2 separate regions of the Homo sapiens genome follow, and region 2 is linked to region 1. Evidence: fine-mapped expression QTL. A gene starts in region 1. The other region holds a variant in brackets. All regions are shown on one strand. Distances are between the middles of the regions.

Region 1 (11,200 bases):
AGACGGCAAAAATAAAAAATCTTCGATGGCACATGGGAGGAAATGGGCACTCTTATACACACTGAAAGGGAGGGCAGGGCCACCAAGGACAGTTGTGCAGCTTGTACACTGAAAGGCACTACCCCTAGGGTGAGAGAGAGGTGGGGGACCGGAGATCCAGGAGGCGTTCTGCTAGTGAAAGCTGAGTCAGTCTCAGGAAGGACGTCTTTTGGCAATTTTCAGCCCAGAGGGGCAGGGCAGCTCTTTACTACCATGTTGTATTAGTGGAGGCTTTAGATAGGCTTGTAAAATTGGGCAACTTATTTTGGAAAAATTTTGAAATACCTAGGAAAATGTAAAATCTACAAACTCTTTAACTCAAATTGTCATACGATTTTTATTTTACATCTATGCTTACATGTGCAAGTAAAAAGATATGGCCACAAACACTTCTGACAACAGTTGTCTGTAAACCTAATGAGTGCTTATTTATTGGTAAATATTTTCATAATTAGTGTATCCTATAAAAGACTAGGCAGGAATCGCTGTGGAGTGGATCTGGACATGCAGATATGTAAATTCTCAAAGAGATGCTAAGTGAAACAAGGTATAGAAGAGACTATGTTCCAATGAATGGTTTTTGTCAATCAAAAATCTTCTTAAAAGTCTAAGACACTGAATGTGTATTTCAATACTGACAACATTGTTGTATATATAACCATGCACTCTAATATCTGCTGTTACTCAAATACCTAAATCCAGTTCTACAGAACATTTAGAACATACCACAAATATCCCCACTAACATTCCATTTTAAACACAAAGAATTGCTCATTTTTAAAAAAGTCAAAATATATTTTTAATAGAGGTACCAAAAATTACATTTTTCTAAATTGAATTCTTTTAAGCTTTTCTATTCTGCTTTATATCATCTTGAAGTCCTTCTCCACACTTTCCACAAAGGCACAATTTTTAACCGACTTCAATTAAATTATGTTTCTGTAGCTGCCTGGGTCAGGGCATTCAACACATCAATCACAATGCAGGTGGGAAATGTAAGTACTTTTGAAACAGTCCTCATGCCAATAAGGGAATCTTCGGTTTTGAGAAAGTAAAAGGAAGGTACATGTCATTAGCAGTGAGGTCACAGTCAGTCCTGTTTACTCCTATTCTACCAGGAAACCCATCTTTACGTTTCTCCTTAAACTAAGCCAGGATTTAAATAAAGTGGCAGAATATTATTCGCAGTAAGGTTGAGGCGGGAAATTAAAGAACAATAAAATTAAAAAGAAAGAGAAATAAGTTTTCCTGTTTTAGGCTAACTTGTTCCAGAAGCAGCAACAGGCACAGCCTAGACCCAGGAAAAGTCTTGATAATATTATCTAATATGCTCTGGAGACTCTCTCAGCACTCCCTCAACACAGGGAGAAGAAAAACAAATTTTCCTTTGTTTTACAGAATGAGTTTATAGACTCTTGTTCTCTGTAACTAGTGATTTCAAGTATTCTGTTTTATCTAAGTAGTACAACGAAGGTCATAAAAAGCCTGAGTAGGCCTGAACTACAGCTGCCTGGGCACCACAGAGAAGGTTATAGGATAAGCCTGTGCCCAGGCAAACCTAGAAAACGAACATCTGGGTTGCTTGGCAATGGTCATCTGCAATCCTGTCTTTGTCCTGCCTCTGTATCCCTGCTTTCACGCCACTGTAAGCTTGCTTCAAGCTAGCCCACCTCCGTTTGTGAAGTGTGTATAAAAGTCAAGTACTGTCTTTATTCTGGGCCCAGTCTTTTGGATGTGAGTCAGCTGGGCCTGAGTACACTCAATAAAGATTCTCCTGCTTCAACCTGAGGTCTCCCTCATACTCCCGAATCCCGCAACAAGGTGAGTGTAATAGTTAGAGAAAGCATAGGCCTGAAAGGAGCAAGCTTTGAGAAGCACTCTTACCTTTAACAGAAAATCCCAGATACATACTATTTACATTTTAGTGATCACTGGATAAAGTCTATAATGTCTTTCCTGGCTCTGAATTTTTGTCACAAAAACACAAAACCCATCACTCCAAGGCTTCCTTTTAATGGTTTTCACTTTCACCTACCTTTAGCACTGTTCACGACACCCAAATCCCAAACTGACCATTCAGATGTTTACTGAAATGTGGCTAATGAGGCTGGGCGTGGTGGTTCATGCCTGTAATCCCAGCACTTTCAGAGGCGAATGCGGGAGGATTGCTTGAGCCCAGGAGTTTGAGACCAGCCTGGGCAACATTATGAAACTCCATCTCTACAAAAACTATAACAAAAAATTGGCAGGCATGGTGGCACACACCTGTAGTCACAGCTACTCAGGAGGCTGAGATGGGAGGATCACTTGAGCCCAGGAGTTGGAGGCTGCAGTGAGCTGTGATGGTGCCACTGCACTCCGGCCTGGGTGACAGAGACAGAACCTGTCTCAAAAAGAGGAAAAAAAAAAAAAAAAGACGTGTGTCTAATTTCAGAATTAGGCAATGCAACTAGTTGAATATTTTATTGCACATTGTCCATGATCTTATATGTAAGGCACATTTCCTAGGGAAAGCAGGCATGGATTTAATCATTTATGTTGTACTGCACACTTATTTGCACTATGTAAAACCATGGCTGGAGTGAGAGAAATAACACTTTTAAAAACCAACCTTATATTCTCCATGTCATTACCAGTAATTGATAACTGTTTAATCATCAACTCCAAAGATATTTCTTCCTTATTGGAAGAATTCCAGATAAAACTAAACAGAACTGTCCAAACACATTTCATCCTAATAAAGTTATTTATATAATCACTTATTAGGTCATAACTTATAACTGAGTAATGTTCTTTAGATCTTAAGTGCTTGTCTTTATATAGCTTTACAATAAATTTGTTTCTCTTAAAATTATCTGTGCACTAGATTAAGTTAAATTAAAATAAAATGTATTTAACTGTCTTCAAAATAAGGTATAGGCTATTTTCTTCCTGTAGACTGACAGCACAGATATTGGAAAATCTCTTCTACTTGGTTTTCTGATTCAGTTCAAACTTGTGCTTGCAAGTGAATCTTACGTAAATGTCACCTAAAAAGAGCTCAAGAAGACTCATAAAAAATATTTTTTTCGTAATTTGATTAACTTTCAAGTCATTCACCAAAAGTCAGACCATGCTAGAAAGGGAAGAAAAGTTGGACAACATTCTTGTTTTACCACAAAGACCATGCCAGTTAGCTGGCTTGATTCTCCCACTGATGGGGAGAATGTTTACATTTTAACAATAACTTCACAAATAAACAGATGTAAGAAGTGTTTTCAGTGCATAAAGATCATATACTTTATAAATCCACCTCTCATCTTTCTTCTGGACAGACCACATCTGACTTCGAACGTACTTACTGCAATCAAAAGTGTTTTGTAAAGGACCCTCCTCAGGAATAAACAAGCTCACTAAACCCTCCATACATAACCTGGAGAAACCTCCACAATAATGAAACCCCATCTAGCACTGTTTTTCAAACATATGGTGCATTTCCATTAATTTTCAGGGATAGCCCCTAAAGTAACTTTTGGCTCAACAACCCTGGAAGAGAGGACCTTTGCTCATCTTACACATCAAGTGTTCATGAACAACTCTGATGCCACTAAGTTTCGTTCACAAACTTGCACCTCGGTCGTTCTTTTACAAAAAAAAAAAAGAAAGGTTATTTTGCAAAAGGCAATAGATTTAATCTTGGCTACTATTTACTCTTAATGTTTCTTTCATCTCAGCCCTCCAATGAGAAGTTTAAAAGGAAACATCCGAGGGAGCAAGTTTAGATCTATCTGGAGGAGTTTCTGTGGAGCCAGCCACCCTCACCAGGTGCCTTCCATTAGAGTTTAATGCTTTGCTGCGGTTTCCTGAAAGAGCCCCACAGAGAGTGGGTCTCGATGGGTCCTGAACCGCACCACAACCGGCCAGTGAGGTGAGGGGCGAAGGTGAGGGGCGGCGGCGGGGCGAAGGTGAGGGGCGGCGGCGGGGAGAAGGCTTCGGGACCCCACACGGTCCGGGGGACCGCGAACGAGGAGCGGGGGTGCGGGGCCGCCTGGCGTCCCCGTCGAGGCGGTCTTCATGAGAACGCTCAGAGCAGGGGCGGGCAGGCGAGGGCTTCGAACGCACACACTGGGGCCCCGGACCCGCGTCGCTGAGCTGGGGAGCCCGGCGGCGCGGGCCGGGGACGGCACGGGCACTTTGGCCCCGTCATTGACAGTTGGCACCGGGGGTCCTGGTCGGCCGAGGCGGGGCGTGGCGCCATACCGGGGCGTGGGGCGGCGCAGAGAGGCTGTACCTGGCAGGTACCCACGTACCTATCATGGTCACTGGGTAGGTGGCGGCTGCGGGCCAGGAACAGGCCCATGCGCGCAGCGGCGCCAGCCGCGCCTCCCACCAGCGGCTCTCCTGGGTTAAATCCTCCAGGCCTCCCCGCCCCCGCGCCCGGCCCTAGGAATGCGCACGCGCGGAGGGCGCGGCCCAGGGCCTGCTGGGAGTCGTAGTTCTAACGCGTAGTTTCTCCTCACGCCTCCTGCCCCCAGCCCCCCACCGCCGCCCTTTCCGGCTTCAGGCCCAGCAATCTTACGTCACCGGGGGGCGGGGCTATGCGCCCGCCGTGTTGACCAGTCGCTTAGCAACCGGGAGGCTTACCTTTGGAAGCTTGTTGCAGCTCTAGCCAAGGTCCTGCCCTCTTCCCGCCCCGCCCCTAGGGTCCAGCTCCCTTCACCTAGGAGCTGCCAAACATCTGGATCAACCTGGGCACTACGAGGGGTTGAATTTCTACCATTATCGCGCCTTTTGATATTTTTTTCCAGACCTCCTGCTCACATCCGTAAAGCCCACTGATTCTTTTACTACACTTTTTATGAGAACAAGACATTTTCTAGGAAGATGGTGGCAGAAAAAGAGACCCTGAGCTTAAACAAATGCCCAGACAAGATGCCGAAGAGGACCAAGCTGCTGGCACAACAGCCGCTCCCGGTGCACCAGCCTCACTCTCTGGTTTCTGAGGGTTTCACAGTCAAAGCCATGATGAAAAACTCAGTCGTAAGTGATCTTCCTGAATTAAATGCACTCGCTCTGAATCAGGGGACACGAGATTTACAGAGGTTGGCCAGCCTTAGGATGGACTCTGAGCCATGTCCTGGGTGGTCTTTGCCAAAAAAGGCAGTTACTTGGCAAGTAGCAAACGGTGCCCCACAGTGTGTGGGGGGCAGGCTAGGTTGTTAGAATCTTGGGCAAGTGATGTACTCTGCCCATTTATAAGCACCTTCCTGATAACTTATGGTTTCTGGACCGCCCAAAATTACTCTTAAGCTATTTACACGAGGAAAAAAGATCCCCTTTACTTACTAATTCCTAACTAGCCCCACTCAGCAAAGGGCCTTATAGAAGGTGAGTTCTTAGAAATCATAAACTCTTGCAAAATTTAACATGAGCTGATATACAACCGGGAACATAAACTCATGAAATAATCTATAATGAGAAATTTCTTCACTTCAACCTAGGAAATTTTAGAATATCCTAGCATTTGCTCTAACAACACTTGTCTCTTACAAAATGATGTCATCTTCTTAGAGTACTGAAAGCCAACTTAATATGAACACTGTTTCCTGACAGGCCTTTTAAGATGATGTGCTTTAAACAATACAAGCTTTAGCTCATATATCTCTGCTACTAATACAATTCATATTTCATCTCTATTATTTGTAGTAATAAAAATAAAATATTCTAAGTATCATTAGAGAAAAAAGATTAAAAATATATACAAATATTTTAGCTGTCTGCATGATAGTATATATTTTTTAAACCTTCCTATTTGTTAAATAGCTTTACACTTGGTATGCTAAGACAGATTTTGCTACTGAGTAAGCAACTGTCTGGGAATGAGGCATTAAATAATAAATGCATCTTTCAAATTTGTGTAATTTACACCCTGGGAAGATCTGAGTTATTACATGGCAATTCATTATGTTAAATGAATAGTGTTGTTTTCCAGTGTCACATTATTTCCTTTGCTTATAGGTTGCAAACCTGATAACTTATTCCTAAACGACATACTTAAAATACATGAATGAAACAGATTACCTATAGACCTCTAGGCCAGGTTCCCATGTGGCTATGCAAAACGATATCCTAATTATTGGGAAGTGTGTCAGGTGATTTACAGTAGTTAAAATTCTTGGAAATGGACTAAAATTCTGCTTGTTGTAACTAATTCTTTTTCATGGAATTTCACATAAATTGGTTCTCCTAGGAGTCAAGATGATGCATTTATCAGCAATACCATAACCATTCAGGTTAATCATTTAGTTTTTCTTCTACACAATATTTACAATTTTGATGTTTTTTAATGTTATACTTTAATTTTTTTTTTACTGGTTGGGGTTCTTTTCTGTTTTTTCCTAAACCTGTATTCATAATTCTTGTATCATATTAATTCTTTAATATAATCTTACACCTAAAGAGATAGTTCTGCAAAATCTGATGTTTCTGTATTGCCAAATGTAATAAGTATGCCTACATGACTTAAAAAAAACATTGATTATGAAGCAGGCTTCTTTATAAACAACTTAATTGAGATCCATTATCTTCTCTTTTTATGTTCTAAAGGAAAATCTTGTACTAGCAATACCTCTCTTGCCATTGGAAATCGTAATTCTTAAATGCAAACATTATTTATCCATTCATCTATTTATTCAGTCAACAACTGTCTCTCTTTTTTTTTTTTTTAATACCCAGTGTTTGCTAAGCACAGTTCTGGGGATTTGGGATCAGCAAAGCAAAGTCCCTGCCCTTAGTACTCCGAGGAAAACCAAAATAACAACATTCAAATCTTGATAAAAGAAGGCTGGACAATACCGTTTATACAAAATAACTTCAGTGGTACAGGAAATAAAAATTTTCAATTTCATAACCAATATTTACATTTCACCATTTTTATCTTTAGCAGTATAGACTTCTCAGCATTATAAGGTGAAAATGTCCTCATCTCTTTCTGAAGGTGTATTTTGATTCAGGACGTGTATGCCAATTTCCAGCTTTTCTTAATTGCAACCTCATGCTCCAAGAGCCAACACCCTCCAAACCACTTTTCCAGTTAGATAAGTCAACATTCCAATGCTCTTCCACCTAAAACATGAAGAACTGTATATATCATAAGGAGTTATACAGAGACTCCTGATATTTCTCTGAGTGCGATAGTGATACAAGTACATAAACTTGATAATAAATATGTTTCATCAAATGGGCTGTGCAAGCAGAAATGCTTATTTAAACAATCTGGATATGAGAGTGCAAGATTATTGAAAAAATAATGATAAATGTAAATGGCAAAATTTTTAAAATCTCAATGTCAAATATTTTTCTTCAATAGAAACTAGACTTTCTTTCCATGAAATTTTTGTTGCATTCTATAAGAAAACAAGCATCACAAAAGCCCTGCAATGAAATAATATTCAAATTCACATTTTTATAGTGCTTGCCTATAAAGAGATATGAGATACACAACTTGAAGATTTCATAGTTCATTTTCCTTTAAAAGTCTTGTTTGGGGTGTGATAGAGCCCATGACCAGAAACTAGTAACCCAGTATTTTGTTGTCTTTATCTTGTCAGATACTTTCTGTGCTGAACAAGCTTATCACGAAGCAAGTTAGAAAATCGACCCAGGGTTATGGTGACAGAGAAGTTGAGTTCAGCCTAAGCTTTCTATTACAGCTTTCCTTCTCAAAAGACTATAGATGCTTTATGCTCAAAGTTTAGGGGAATGGAATAAATAATTTTTTTAATATTAAAGGTTGAGTATTCCTATTCCAAAAGTCTGAAACCTGAAGTGGTCCAAAATACAAAACTTTTTGAGTGTTGACATTACACTCAAAGAAAACTCTTTTGAGCATTTTGGATTTCAGATTTTCAGAACTGGCGTGACCATCAGTATATAATACAGATATAGTCAGCTCTTTGTACAGATTCTGCCTCCATGGATTCAACTAACCTTGGATTGAAATGTTTGGGATAAAAATTTTATCTGTATTGAACATGTACAGACTTTTTTTTTTGAGTCATTATTCCCTAAACAATAGAGCATAGCAACTATTTATGGAGCATTTATATTGTTTTAGATATTATAAGTAATATAGACATGATTTAAAGTATATAGGTAGAAATGTGTAGGTTACATACAAATACTACGCCATGTTATATCAGGGACTTGAGCATCTGAAGATTTTGGTATCTGCAGGAGGTCCTGGAAACAATTCCTCATGGAGACTGAGGGATGACTGTATTCCAAATTTGAACAAAAAACAAAAACAAATCCAAAACACTTCTGGTCCCAAGCATTTCAGATAAGGGATAGTTCAACCTATACTTTACATGTATAGTGTGTTTTATATTTACCAATCATGTGCTCATTTAACACGTAGTGGTAATCATCAATATTTATAAATTATATATTAAAATATTAATTTGGCTTCTGTAACACTGACCAAATAACAATAGCTTAATTAAGATGGAAGTTGTTTCTCTCATAATAGAAGTTCAATTTTGTAGGCAATCCCAGGAGGTTGGGCAGCATTCCCCATGAGGCAGGTGCAGGGGCATAGGAGCATGTTTGTTCTTTGCATCCTGTAAAATGACACCTGAGACAAGGGGGGCTCGAGACCACCAGGGTCAAATACCTGCCCTCAAGAAGGAGGAAAGTGGAAGCAGAGAGCTTCCCATTATGTGCATGACCCAGACACAGCACCCCACTTTCATTCTCATCCAACTGGCCAGAACCTAGTAATAAATACACCTACATTTTCCCTTTTTGCAAAAGCCTATGAAAGCTTGACCCATGAAGCAACTCCCAAGCCCACGTACCTGTCTCCTCAGGAAAAGGATGAAGGAAGCTATGTAGTTCCAAAAGGGCATCATCTCCAACACCTACTTCAGGTGGAGGAGAGAAAAATGGGTATGGAGCAATCTGCAAGAATGAGGCAGGAAGAAATGAAGAGCAAACAGCTTCACTATGAGGGCATGTCCCAGAAACAGCAATCCTCACTCCTGCTCAAATCCATTGCCAAAACCTAGTCTTATGGCCACAGCTAGTTGCAAGAGAGGCTGGGACATGTAGTCTTTAACTGGTAGCTCTGTGTCCGGCTCAAACTCACAATGTTTTATTACTGTAGCCAAGGAATATTGGGGGATAATTAGAAGTGTCTAGCTCCAGTGCTAAATGTGCTACATTATTAGTGAAGAAAAGGAGAGAGACAAGTAAAATAATTACAATACAAATAAACAGATGTCTCTGGCAGAGAAGTACTAATGATGAAGGGACCAAGTGGCGATGAACTAATGGGTGCCCTCATCACCTTTTGTCTAGGCTTGTACAATATCATCCACCTATCAATTGGTTGACTCCCTCAATCAATTATCAGTACAATTACACTAATCTTTCTGGTACAATGTTCTGCTCCTATCACTATTCAGAGCTTTTGGAGCTTCCCAATTCTTATAGAAAAAAAGTCAAGATACTTCCCCAGGGCCAGCAAGGTCTTGTGTGATCTAATCCCATTCTGTGTTCTAAAATTTCATCTCCCACTGTTCTCATTTGCTTCAGTCAATCTGAACCAAGGAAATAAACTCATATTCTTTATTTTTGTGTTTCTGTTTATGTTGTTCCCTTTGCTCGAACACCCTTCTCCCTACATATCTGCATATACAAATTCATTCTATCATCAGGTAACACATATCTATTGATCACAGACTATGTGCAAAGCACTGTTTTAAATGCTAGGAATTTAGCAGTCAGCAAAAGACAGAACACATGCTGTCAAGAAGCTTATATTTTTGTGGCCAGCAAAATGCCAACTGCTTTAAGAAGACTTCTTTAATTCTCCCTTCCTGTCACCCACATAGAAAGTTATCCTTTATTCATTGTGTTCTACTTTGTATTATGGTCATTTCTGCTCATGTTTTATCTCCTTATGTAAATTCTCCGTGAGGGCAGTATCCACATCTAAGTCACTTTTTAATCTTAACCAGAACCTAACAGTGTATTCAATAAATATTTGATGAATGAAGGAAAGCAATTCTACCCTTTCTTCTTATCTCATATTCTCCTACTTTCTTATTATAATTGTTATTTGTCTCTATTTTGAATTTTTTTAAGCCATCCTCTCTAATTGTGGAGCCCAGAAGCTCCCTTTAAAACTTGAGAAGGCCGAATCATGGCATTCGTCACCTCAACCCCTCAGGTGGCTCCCTGCCTCACTCAGAGTAAAAGCTAAGCTTCCTCTATTGGGAAGGCCCTGTGTGATCTGCCCACCCTTGCTGCTTTATGCAACTCTGCTGGCCCTGCCTCCGGAACTCAGTTAGTGCCACGCCTTTGCCCTTCCTGTTTCCTCTGCCTGAAATGCATTTTACCCTGTGTGTCCTCATCTCTTGATGCTTCAAATTTCTGTTTAAAAATTAGCTATTTAGTGAGCCTCTTCCTGACCACTCTATTTTAAACTTCAGACCCTTAACAATCCCTTCCATCCCTGCTCCAGCACTCCCATCTCCCTTCCCTGTTTTATATTTTTCCCTCTAATATTAATTTAGTTGAGCCTGTGTTTTTCTTCTACCAGAGAGTAAGCCCCAGAAGGGCAGGAATTTGTTTATTTCACCCATTGCTGCATCCTCACCTCAAGAAAAATTTATGGCACATAGTAGCTGCCATTTATCTTATTTTGATCAGTTGAATTAATGAAAGACTATATTTTATACTATAATTAGACAATCATCTTCAAATCAGTGGCTCCAAAGAAAATGCCAATGATGTTATATAGATATTAAATCTAGAAATGAGAATAATTTGCAGCTGTTTTATGCAGTATCATAAAAGTTACACATGTTCATTGAAAAAAGTTAAAGTGGTTTGGCTTAGAAAAGCTTTTTCCTGTCTAAGATGATGAGAAAAAATTCAGTCTTTTTTTCCTGGATTCTGTTTTACTTTTAATTTTTTATTTTGAAAGTTTGCTTCACCTTAAGTCATTTTGATTTTGGAAGGTATAAATTTTGACTTATTTTCCCTAAATGGCCAGAGAATTGTTACATTACCCTTTATATACTTAAATTAAATTATATCAAACATCTTCCTATCAAATTTAGGAATTCCTATCCAATTTAAATAATATATCAGTGCTGTTTTTATTATTTCAAGT
Region 2 (11,200 bases), 910 kb before region 1:
ATGTAAGTCACCTTATTCACTCATCAATTTTTGAAAACTAAAAATATAAATCATTCCATTTTGGTGATAAAATTTTAATTTCCTATACTGATAATAAATTTTTCCTTGACAAATGCACTTAGGGCACCCTTCACACTGAAAAACTACAAGAGACAAGTCCCACATCATCAACAGAATGTAAGAATGTAGGTGGATGAAGGATACCACCTGAGACTCTACATTTCTGTTAAACTGGCTTCAAATTATTAAGTAGCTAATCTAAACAAGTGTGCCTGTTTCTGCTCTAAAGCAATGTGGAATTCTTTCAATCCCTTAGGACGTGTTTTTAATAATAAACTTTTAAAAATGTGTTTAATAAAATATAACAAACTTTATAATGAGTATTCATACTCATACATACATAGTATTACAGGTTGAGCTGTGCCCCCTTAAAATTCGTGCATTGAAGTCCTAACCCCTAGTGCCTCAGAATGTGATTATAGTTGGAGATGGGGCCTTCAAAGAGTTAATTAAGGTTAAATGAGGTCAGATATGTGGAACTTAATTCAACATGACTGGAGTCCTTACAAGAAGCAGAGACTATGACACAGATATGTACAGAGGGAAGCCCATCTGGAGATACAGGGAGAAGACAGCCATCTGCAAGCGAGGAAGAGAGGCCTCAGAAGAAACCAACCTTTTCAACACCTTGATCTTGGGCTTCTGGTCTGTGAGGAAATACATTTCTGTTATTTAAGCCACCTGGTCTGTAGTAGGCAGCCTGAGCAAACTAATATACATGTATATTTTAGTTTTGTCTAAGAAAACTCTTGAATGGATTATGACAGACTGGAATTCTAGACTGATAATAAATTACTGTGTGACCTCCTTAAAATTTAGAGATAAGAGGAGGTCCTAGACAACGTCTAACGTTTCATCATTTTATACCCATATACAAAAGCTTTTTTTCTGAAACAGAAAGCATCATACCTTGGTTGGGAAGCTGACATTCCCTTGGATCAAGACATGGCTGCTAACTGTAGGAGTGACTACTTATGTAACAGTCATTCAAATGAAAATACCTATGCTAAAAATGATTATTTGCAACATTCATGTATTTACTTCTTATTAGACAAGTAATTATTAAGCATATGGCATATACCTTATACTAGGCATTGGAAAAATCAAAAAATAAAATACAGTCATTATCCTTAGGATTCTAATTCAAATTCAACACGATGTATGCTATAGCAGAGACATAAATACAGCCAAGGTGGTGTCTAGCTTTACCTGGGGAACTTGAGGAAGGCTTCCCAGAGGAGGAAAGTCTTTTGAGCTATATCTTTAAGGATGGGCAGGGGTTCGTCTGATGGGGAAGAGGAAGAAAGGGTACTCCAAGCAGAGGGAAGACTATCTGGTAAAATAGTAATTCTCAAAATGATCTGTAGATTCGAAATAATCCCTTTTGAAATATCATCAAAGTTTTTAAAGAACTAGACAAACTAACTCTAAAATTTATATGGAAATATAATGATCTGTATTAGCCAAAGCAATTCTGAAAAATGAAACAAAATCTCAGGCCTTAAACTTCCTGATTTCAGGACTTGCTATAATGCAGCACACAAGCCAATAAACTAGGCCAATCAATTGTCAGAAAGAAAGTTTTCTGGGTTTTACTAATGATTCCAAGCAGTAATTGTCCTTTAGTTTCTCAAAAAAAAAATTGTTTAATTTTCTAGTTCACCTGGCAAAATGAAAGACAGTTTTAGACATCATCATATACAGTTACAGAAATCAAGCCAGTGTGGTACTGGCATCAGGATGGATAAATAGATCAACAGAACAGAAGAGTGAGTCTAACAGAGGAGCCAAGGTAGCTCAACGGGAGAGGGCTGGTCATTTCAATATACGGGGCTTGGACAAGAGGAGAAACATATGCACGATAGCAACAGTAACATAACCATTGTCCCTTACATCACACCAAACACAAAGATTAACAAGAAATTGACCAAGGATCTAAATGAAAGAGCTATTACTTTAAATCTTCTAGAAGGGGCCGGGCACGGTGGCTCACACCTGTAATCCCAGCACTTTGGGAGGCCGAGGCGGGTGGATCACCTGAGGTCAGGAGTTCAAGACCAGCCTGGCCAACATAGTGAAACTCCATCTCTACTAAAAATACAAAAATTAGCCGGGTGTGGTGGCATGCACCTGTAGTCCCGCTACTCAGGAGGCTGAGGCAGGGGTATCGCTTGAACCTGGGAGGTGGAGGTTGCAGTGAGTTGAGATCGTGTCTTTGCACTCCAGCCTGGGTGACAGAGCAAGACTCTGTCTCAAAAATAAATAAATAAATAAATAAAAATTAAAAAAAAATCTAGAAGGAAAAATATAACAGACATTTTCTTTGTAACCTTGAGCAAGACAACAATTTCTAGATAAGATAAACCAAAAAATGAACAGTAAAAGCAAAAAATCAATATATTGGACTTCATCAAAATTAAAATTAAAATGTTGTTGAAGCCAGGCATGGTAGTTCACACCTACAATCCCAGTGCTTTGGGAAGCTGAGACGGGAGGACTGCTTGATCCCAGGAGATTGAGGCCAGCCTGGGCAACACAGGGAGACCCTGTCTCTAAAAGAATAAAAATAAAAATAATTACTCAGGTGTGGTGGTGTTTGCCTGTAGTCCCAGATACTCAGGAGGCTAAGGCAGGGGGTGGGAGTCCCTTTAGGCCAGAAGTTTGAGGCTGCAGATTACGGCACTGTACTCCAGCTTGGGCAACAGAGCAAAAGCCTGTGTCCAAAAGGGGGAAAAAAAACTTTGAAAGTCACCATAAAGATGAAAAGGCAACCTTCAGACTGGCAGAAAATACATACAAATCATCTGTCTGAGAAAGGACCTATGTTGAGAGTATACATAAAAAAACTTACAGTTTAGTATTAAGAAAACAACCAAGCAACCAACAACCCAATTAAAAATGGAGAAAAATTTGAATAGATGCCACAGTAAAGAAGATAGCAGAATGTCAAATGTGCACATGAAAAGATGGTGCAGATCATTACACAACAGGGAAATGCAAATTAAAACAATGTAAGATATTATCATGCACCTACTAAAATATCCAAAATTAAAAAGACTGACAATACCAAGTGTTGGCAAGGATATAGAGAAACTAAAGCCCTTAAATATTATTGTGGAGATACTTTAAAATGTTTTAAAAATAGTTTGGCAGTTTCTTTAAAACTGTAAAGTTTCTTTAAAAATTGAATATATGCTACCACAGAGTTTGGCAATTCCACAAAGTCTGCTCCCAAGAGGAGTGAAAACATGTATACACAAAGGCGTTTACACAAATGGTCACAGCAGCATTATTTATGATAGTCAAAAGTGATGAAAGAATTAGAATAAAACCTGAATAGGACATGGAACCAGAAGTTTTCAGGCAGGAAGTAACAAAGTGAGGCTTGTTTATTCAAAAGATAAATCAGACATGGAAGTTGGACTGAAGCAGGTGAGAGACTCGTAGCAGGAAGACCAGATGCTTAACCTCCTTGGATGGATTCTGTTTTAACTGACAGGAAGACAGTTGGATTTCCTAAAGGAGAGGCTTAGCTTGTGGGAGGAAGTGCAGTGGAAAGGATATGAACTTCTCATCATCCTGGTTCAGCATCCCAGGTGCGCACCTGAGCATGTGAGTCCCCCTTTGCCCAACCTCCAGTCTCAGGCGCCTCACCCACCACAGGAGGGGATGTCCCCAGCCTCACCGGGCTGCGGCGAGGCGGTGCAGTATCTGTGGACAGCTTCTGGCTGATGCCTGCCACATGGGTGGGACTCGGGGTAGCTGAGTTTCCTTCTCCTTCTCTTCTAACTTCTTATCCAAGGAAAAGGAAAAGACCTGTCTGGCCTTCCATAATCAGTAAGGTAAATTCATCCATCCACAGAGAAAATAACCGGGAAGCCTACAGTGCACATTTTCTCTCTGCCCCCACCCCCTATGCCCATGCCGCATCACCATGACGACTCTCTGCCCTGCCAGGCTTGCTCTGCATCCCAGAAAGTTGGGCCCTTGGGGCTGTACCCACAAGGCTCCCCTGATCTCTGGCTGCCAGCTGCCACCCAGCTCTGGGTCACATTTTCTGACAGTGGCTTCATCCTTCCCTGCTACAGATCCTCTTGGCCATCCTCTTCCTCTCCTCCATGCCTCCTGGAGCTGCGGCAGCACTAAGCAGGCCACTTACTTCTGAAAGACTGGGGTGCTGATGGAGCTGGCAGTTTCTGGGTTCCTCACTACCACTGCCCACATCTCTGCAAATTCATCTTTGTCATTAAAGCATCTAGAATTATTTGGATTGATTCTGTTTCATACTCAGACCCCAATTCAAAGGGTCTAAAACAGGTAAAATGGACAGAGGTGGGGCAAATATATCCAAATAAAAGAGGATCCTTTTATCTTATGCTCAGGGCCTTGCTGACAGAAGGTAGCATCTTTGGTGATGCGACGTTTTTTCCTCTCCAGGAGCAAACATCCAAGGAGCACAAACTGCCAGTCTCTAGTTGTAGTGAGCAACACTGGCTACACTGCTTTCTACTCTTATTCAAGCATTGTGCTGTGAGTGAATTAATATTGTGCTGTTTCCATTCCTGTTAAAATATTCTTCATAGTGACAAAGAATACACAAAAATGTCCAGACTGACATAACGGTGCCACCTGAAGCATAACTCTTGGAAGTCAAATGTGCTGTGACCAAAGAGGTTTCTAAAGAGACACAGTGTATTCGTCCATTCTCATGTTGCTAATAAAGACTCACAGTTTCACATGGCTAAGGAGGCCTCACAATTATAGCAGAAGGCGAAAGAGGAGCAAAAGCATGTCTTACATGGTGGCAGGTAAGAGAGTGTGTGCAGGGGAACTGCCTTTTTTTCTTTTTTTTGAGATGGAGTTTCACTCTTGTTGCCCAGGCTGGAGTGCAATGGCCCAATCTTGGCTCACCGCAACCTCCGCCTCCCGGGTTCAAGCAATTCTCCTGCCTCAGCCTCCCAAGTAGCTGAGATTACAGGCATGTGCCACCACGCCCAGCTAATTTTGTATTTTTAGTAGAGACAGGGTTTCTCCATGTTGGTCAGGCTGGTCTCGAACTCCCGACCTCAGGTGATCTGCCCACCTCAGCCTCCCAAAGTGCTAGGATTACAGGCATGAGTAACCGCGCCCAGCCGGGAACTGCCTTTCATAGAACTATCAGGTCTCATGAAACTTATTCATTATCAGGAGAGCAGCATGGGAAAGACCCGCCCCCATGATTCAATTACCTCCCACAGGGTCCCTCCCATGACACATGGGAATTATGGGAGCTCAAGATGAGATTGGGTGGAGACACAACCAAATCATATCACACAGTTTCTTCTCTGAATTTATGGGTCTTTGAGGTACTTTTATGACAATGAGAAAAACTCTCT[C/T]TAGGTGTGTGCAACCACATACCAGGGAACTAAGTCTAGGGAACAGACCATAAGCCGCATTTCATCCCCAATTCATTGCTGCAGCCAGGTATGCCTGTGCAGTATACAACCTACACAACTGCAAGTGGCAGCCGTTACTTCATATGATTCTAGGACACTCGCACTTACTTCTTGGACTCAATTTTCATATGTATAAAATGAATAATGCTATACACTTTTCACCTAGCTTTATACAACTAGAGGTATTGTACTTTGAATTCAAAGAACTATAACTTATCTAAAAACATTCAGGTATACAAAGTTCAACCATCCAAAGTGTTCACCTATACAAAGAAAAGTTACCATTCTTTTGTGGGCTGATTATAGGTTACTTAGCAGGGGACTTTTTGTTCCTGGTGGTTAACGCAGATCCTAATATCCAACTTGGTCAACTTTCAAAAGTGCCTTATCAGACTTTCACTTCTGGCTACAATGGAATAACAAGCACTGAATTTATCTCCCTCCCTGAAGCAACCTAATAATTCCACAAAATATATGAAACAATGGTTTTCAAGACAGTGACATGAGACAATGTGGGACAAAGGTCCGTGAGAGACAGGAAGCAAGCGTGCTGAGTCCTGCAATCACTCCAGCCTCCTGCCTTCAGAGAGTGGCCAGGCCCTGGTTCAGGGAGGGAGACCCCAGCGGGAGCTCAGCAGACTTGCGGAATTGAACCCACAGGTCTGTGTGTAGGGGGAAGACGGGGCAGCTGGAGTTAACAGAACTGAGCAGAGAGAGCTGCACAGAGAAGACTAGAAAACTGTACGACGGGTTCACCTGAAGCGTCTGGCTGCTGGTGTAAACCTGCGCTTTGGAAAATGGTATGCACACGTACACTCACTATGGAAAAATAGTTTGGCAATTTCTTAAAAAGGTGAACATGTATCTAACAGGAGATCCAGCCATTCTTCTCCAGAATTTCTAACCAATGCAGAGAAAACCCGTGTGCATGCAAAAACTTGTACACAAATGCTCCTGGCAGCTCTGTTTGAAATAGCCCCAAACAGGAAGCCACCCAAATGTTCCTCAACTGATGAGTGAATAAACTGGTGGATCCCTGCAGTCCATGTGGCGGCAGGCTGCTCAGTACCAACGAGGAGGGAGCTGGGACATATGCAGCAGCATGCGTGAGTCTTAAAATAATGATGCTGTGTGAAAGAAGACAAGCAGAAAGAAACACACACTGGGTAACTCCACTTCCAAAACCTCTAAAAAATGGTAACTAATCTATGGGGACAGAGAACAGATCAGTGGTCTCCAGGAGATGAGAAGGGGAGGCAGAGTGGGGTGGGAGGGAGAGAATCCAAAGAAACCTGAGGCAATTGTGGGGGTGATGGGTTCACTGACTGTGATAGTGGTCTTACCGGTGTATACATGTATCATGACTAATTGAATTGCACACTTTCAATATGTGTGTTTTATCACACACCACTTATACCTCAGTGAAAAATTTCATGCACAGAAAAAAGGTTTAAGAATACAGTGGCTTGTTTAACCAAAGATTTTCATATGTGGCTGTCTTCTCACAATGCAGCTGGAGGGAGGCCACAAGAAGAATGTGTTCACACCCCAGGAGTTGGAGGTTGCAGTGAGCCGAGATCACGCCACTGCACTCCAGCTTGGGTGACAGAGTGAGACTCCATCTCAAAAAAAAAAAAAAATTGTTCATGCGCAGTCACTTTCTTAACCCCAATTTTGCTATTGAGCAACGTGTAAAAGGATTGTCACTATGCTGCATTTGAAAGCATGCCCTGTTTCAGATGTCCCAAATGGCAACAGGGTCACTCACAAAGAGAACAGGGTTCAGTATATGCCTTGATTCCTGTCCTCCAAAACGGTACCCATAGGTAAGTTCTCCCTGCAAAAGGGAACTGAAAAAATGAGGTCCTGGCTTTGGGCTTTCATTACTTTCATACACACACACGCACATGCACACGTACTCACACACACATAAAGTTTTTGTTTTGTTATTCTAATTTGTGCTTCGATTTGCCCAGGAGACTGGGTCCTAGAATTTGATCAATTCTACCTTCCCGGTCCACTGCTAGAGAATTAATCTGGAATCACATTAAAAACTCCTGGAGCCCCCATCACTATAGCTTCTGAAGGAAAAGAATAGGAAGAAAAATCAATGTGCTTTGTGTATTCACAGACTTCTGATAAACTCTGGGCATGAATCCTGTCTCGATTTTAAGAGGCTCTAAATGGTAGTGAATTGTGAGCCTCACTGCAGAGCTAAGAAGTAGCCCCCTCAGAACTGGAGAGTAAACAGGGCCACGTGGGTTTCCCATGCCCAGTCCCCAGGGATTTAGACCTAGTGTATGTTTGTCACCACCAACTAGTGACAAGGACAAATTTTCCAATTAGAAGAAAGTCCTTTATTTGAAACTATATATTTCCCAGATTTCCTGTTAAAATGATTCCCTTTTATTAAGTGATGTTGAGACTAGATACTTTTGTTACTGTGTTTTTAAACATCCTTACATGGTAAAATGAAATATTGTAAACCTATATTGCTCAGTCCTCCACTTTATTTTTAAGAAAAGTTAACTTGTTAATAAAACTGAAAAGTCTTAAATGTATCAATACTTGTCATTGCATGTGGAAAATTTTATCGACATTTTGGTTTTGGTTTATATAGACTAAGTTACAATAAAAACAAAGAACTGTGAACACAATCACACATGATCACGAATGACAACGCTACTCCTACAGCGTAAGAAATCTCATCTTAAATTTCCTCAACCCAATATTTTCAAAAAGAACTTGACCTGCCAAGCTTCCAGAAAACACAAATAAGGAGGCAGAATAATCACTTCCCACCGTTGCTCCAAGGAGACCCCCGAAGAGCCTGAAGATGTGAAGCTCTGATAAGGTAACTAATAATTCCTTGGATAGTCTACTGGCGTAGGAGCCATGGAAACAGAGAAACAGCATTGGCACCAATGAAGGTTAATCAAATCATAACACAGACATGCATTTTATTACTCTGACGGCACACAGCAACACAGAGTTATCAGGTGCAGATGAACCTAATTAGATTGGGTAGGGGGAAATGGACAGCTGTGAGGTGACTGCTTTGAGCTCTCCTGAAAGATAAGGTCAGATTTACCAAAGACACATAGGTGGAAACTCAAAGACCAGTTTTTGGTAGAGGGGCAGGTCCTTGTGAGACTCAGTCCTACTATCCTGAGGTCAAGAAGTTCAAAACAAAGTGGAAAGACTGGACATCTGATTCACTTGTTTTAATTTTTTTTTTTTTTAATTTTTAGAGATGGGGTCTCACTCTGTCACCCAGGCTGGAGTGCAGTGGTGCGATCACAGCTCACTGCTGCCTCAACCTCCCATGCCCAAGTATCTCCTGCCTCAGCCTCCTAATTAGCTGGGACTACAGGCCTATGCCACCATGCCTGGCTAAGTTTTGAATTTTTCTGCAGAGATAGGATCTTGCTATGTTGCCCAGGCTGATCACCAACACCTGGACTAAAGCGATCCTCCTGCGTTGGACTCCCTAGTGCTGGGATTCTGGGTGTGAGCCACCGTGCCCAGCCCCTAGTCACTTTCAAACAGAATTTAGCAAGTTTGGAAAGGTTACTAGATAGCAAGGAAAACCATTTTCACAGAAGGCAGTAAGACAGTAGCAATGATGTAATTTTTCCCTCAAAAAAACTAGAAGGCAAGAGATCTCCAACAACAAGGGCCTGGGAATTTGACACACTTGTTTCCACACACTTCATAGAGCTACGAACTGGAGAAGTCTTTGAATGTGGGGTAAGATAGGGAAGGTCAAGCCCTGTAGGTATACAGGTGGGCATGGGAGCCAGACGGAGTCAGTGGACAGGTGAAGAGGGCCTTATCCATCTAACATGTACTGTGGTTAGGCCTGGAGACATTCAATAAGTGGCATCTGAGTGCATGAATGTTTCAATACCCTCAACGCACTGCGGTTATGTTCTTGAAAATGTACATTGCATTCAAACATTATACTCCGAACTTAGGTGCCCAAATGAACAGTATTGATAAATGGAAATTTCATTTCTCATAGAGTCCTTGACTGTCCTCTCATATCATAAAAAATAAAGGGGATACATAGGTAGATGAATACAGATGTGATACCCTTTAAAAATAATAGCAGGCCAGGCATGTGGGCTCATGCCTGTAATACTTTGGGAGGCTAAGGTGGGCAGATCGCTAGAAGTCAGGAGTTCAAGCCAGCCTGGACAACATGGTGAAACCCTATCTCTACTAAAAATACAAACATTAGCCAAGCATGGTGGCATGTGCCTGTAATCCCAGCTACTAGGGAGGCTAAGGCAGGAGAATCGCTTGAACCTGGGAGGCGGAGGTTGCAGTGAGCTGAGGTCACGCACTGCACTCCAGCCTGGGTGACAAGAGTGAGACTCTGTCTCAAAAAAATAAAAATAAAAATAATAGCAAATAATGAGCATAAAAGTAACAAAGATTTATGTTAAACTCCTAAATGTTTCTTGTATCTCTATAGGTATTACCCCCAATCAAATTCCCAAATTAAATAAATTTTATAAAAATACATGCAGAGCTTCTAATAACAGAAATTCCACTCTACTCTAAGGATGTCAGTACAATAGTGCTATTAAAAACACATTTGGTTTACATTCAAAGGCTACCTTTCAGAGATTAAGGCACATCACATTTTAAAGCGAATCTCAAAGAAAAAGTAGATAAATTTATTTTATCCACCACTGAAGTCCAATCACTAAGCATAGCAGCAGATATTTAACATGTGCTTAGAAAATATTTTTCAAATAAAAAATGATTTATCAAAACTCGTAAGAGATACTTCAAAGCATAATATCCAAAACAGCATAAAATTAACTGGCCAAATTAAGCCTAAAAATATTAGTAATAAGTAACACTGAAAAAATTATTATCCTCAGTATATAAAGAGCTCTTACAATTTAGTAAAAACATGCTATTATCAAGCCACAGAAAATAGGCCAGTGACATAAACGTACCTATCCCAGTAAATGCTTGAAACTGTTTAACCTCATTATTAATAGTAATTTAAACTTTTTTACCAGAAAGAGAGCATTTTGCTCATCAAATTTACAATCTTTCTAAAAATTCAATAACCACCATTGAATAAAAATTCAATGGTAGTTAGCTCTGGCAAAATGGGTTCACTCATACATTGCTAGTGGGAATATAAATTAGCAAAACCTCTCTGAAAAACAAACTGGTAATATAATTCATATCAAGAGTTTTAAAAAGTTTATAACTTTCAACACAGCAACTCCTAGTAATAATCTCTCCTGTGACAATAAAATATATGGGCAAAGATGGTGTATGAAGATGTTTATTACAAATAATTTTTTAAATATTTATATTTTCATTTATAATGTTAAAGTTTATATGTTTATAAATATTTATATAATATATACTATGTAATTTTTCATAATTTAAAAAATAAAAATTTTATTCATTTACTTTATAAAAAATTACAAATAAATATAAAATATATAAACAAATATTACAAATATAATTACATAATATACAGTATACAATATGCAAATATTTATAAAAATATATGAATAAAATTTTTATTTTATAAATGGCAATTTTTATAAGTATAAAATTTTATGCATAAATAAAATTATATAATTATATATTCATTTATAGGTGTATATATTTATAAGCATAAATATATAAACAATTGTTTATAAATATATTTTTAAATTGCAAACAAC

Evidence for each region.
Region 2: its variant is fine-mapped to the expression of PACRG in uterus (GTEx, PIP 0.94).

The regions. Positions count from the first base shown.
Region 1 is chr6:162,723,334-162,734,533 of GRCh38, forward strand. PACRG (parkin coregulated) reads left to right here and starts at 4,641. Exons shown (of 5, transcript NM_001080379.2): 1 at 4,641-5,058. The coding sequence starts at 4,903. PRKN (parkin RBR E3 ubiquitin protein ligase) reads right to left here and starts at 4,433. Exons shown (of 12, transcript NM_004562.3): 1 at 4,329-4,433. The coding sequence starts at 4,335. RefSeq lists silencers at 4,011-4,550, 4,040-4,261.
Region 2 is chr6:161,809,608-161,820,807 of GRCh38, forward strand. The region is part of intron 6 of PRKN (parkin RBR E3 ubiquitin protein ligase); the gene reads right to left. Among named protein-coding and RNA genes, the nearest start is that of LNCR-SMAL, 420 kb to the right of the region's middle. The variant C/T (reference allele first, on the strand shown) is at 5,436.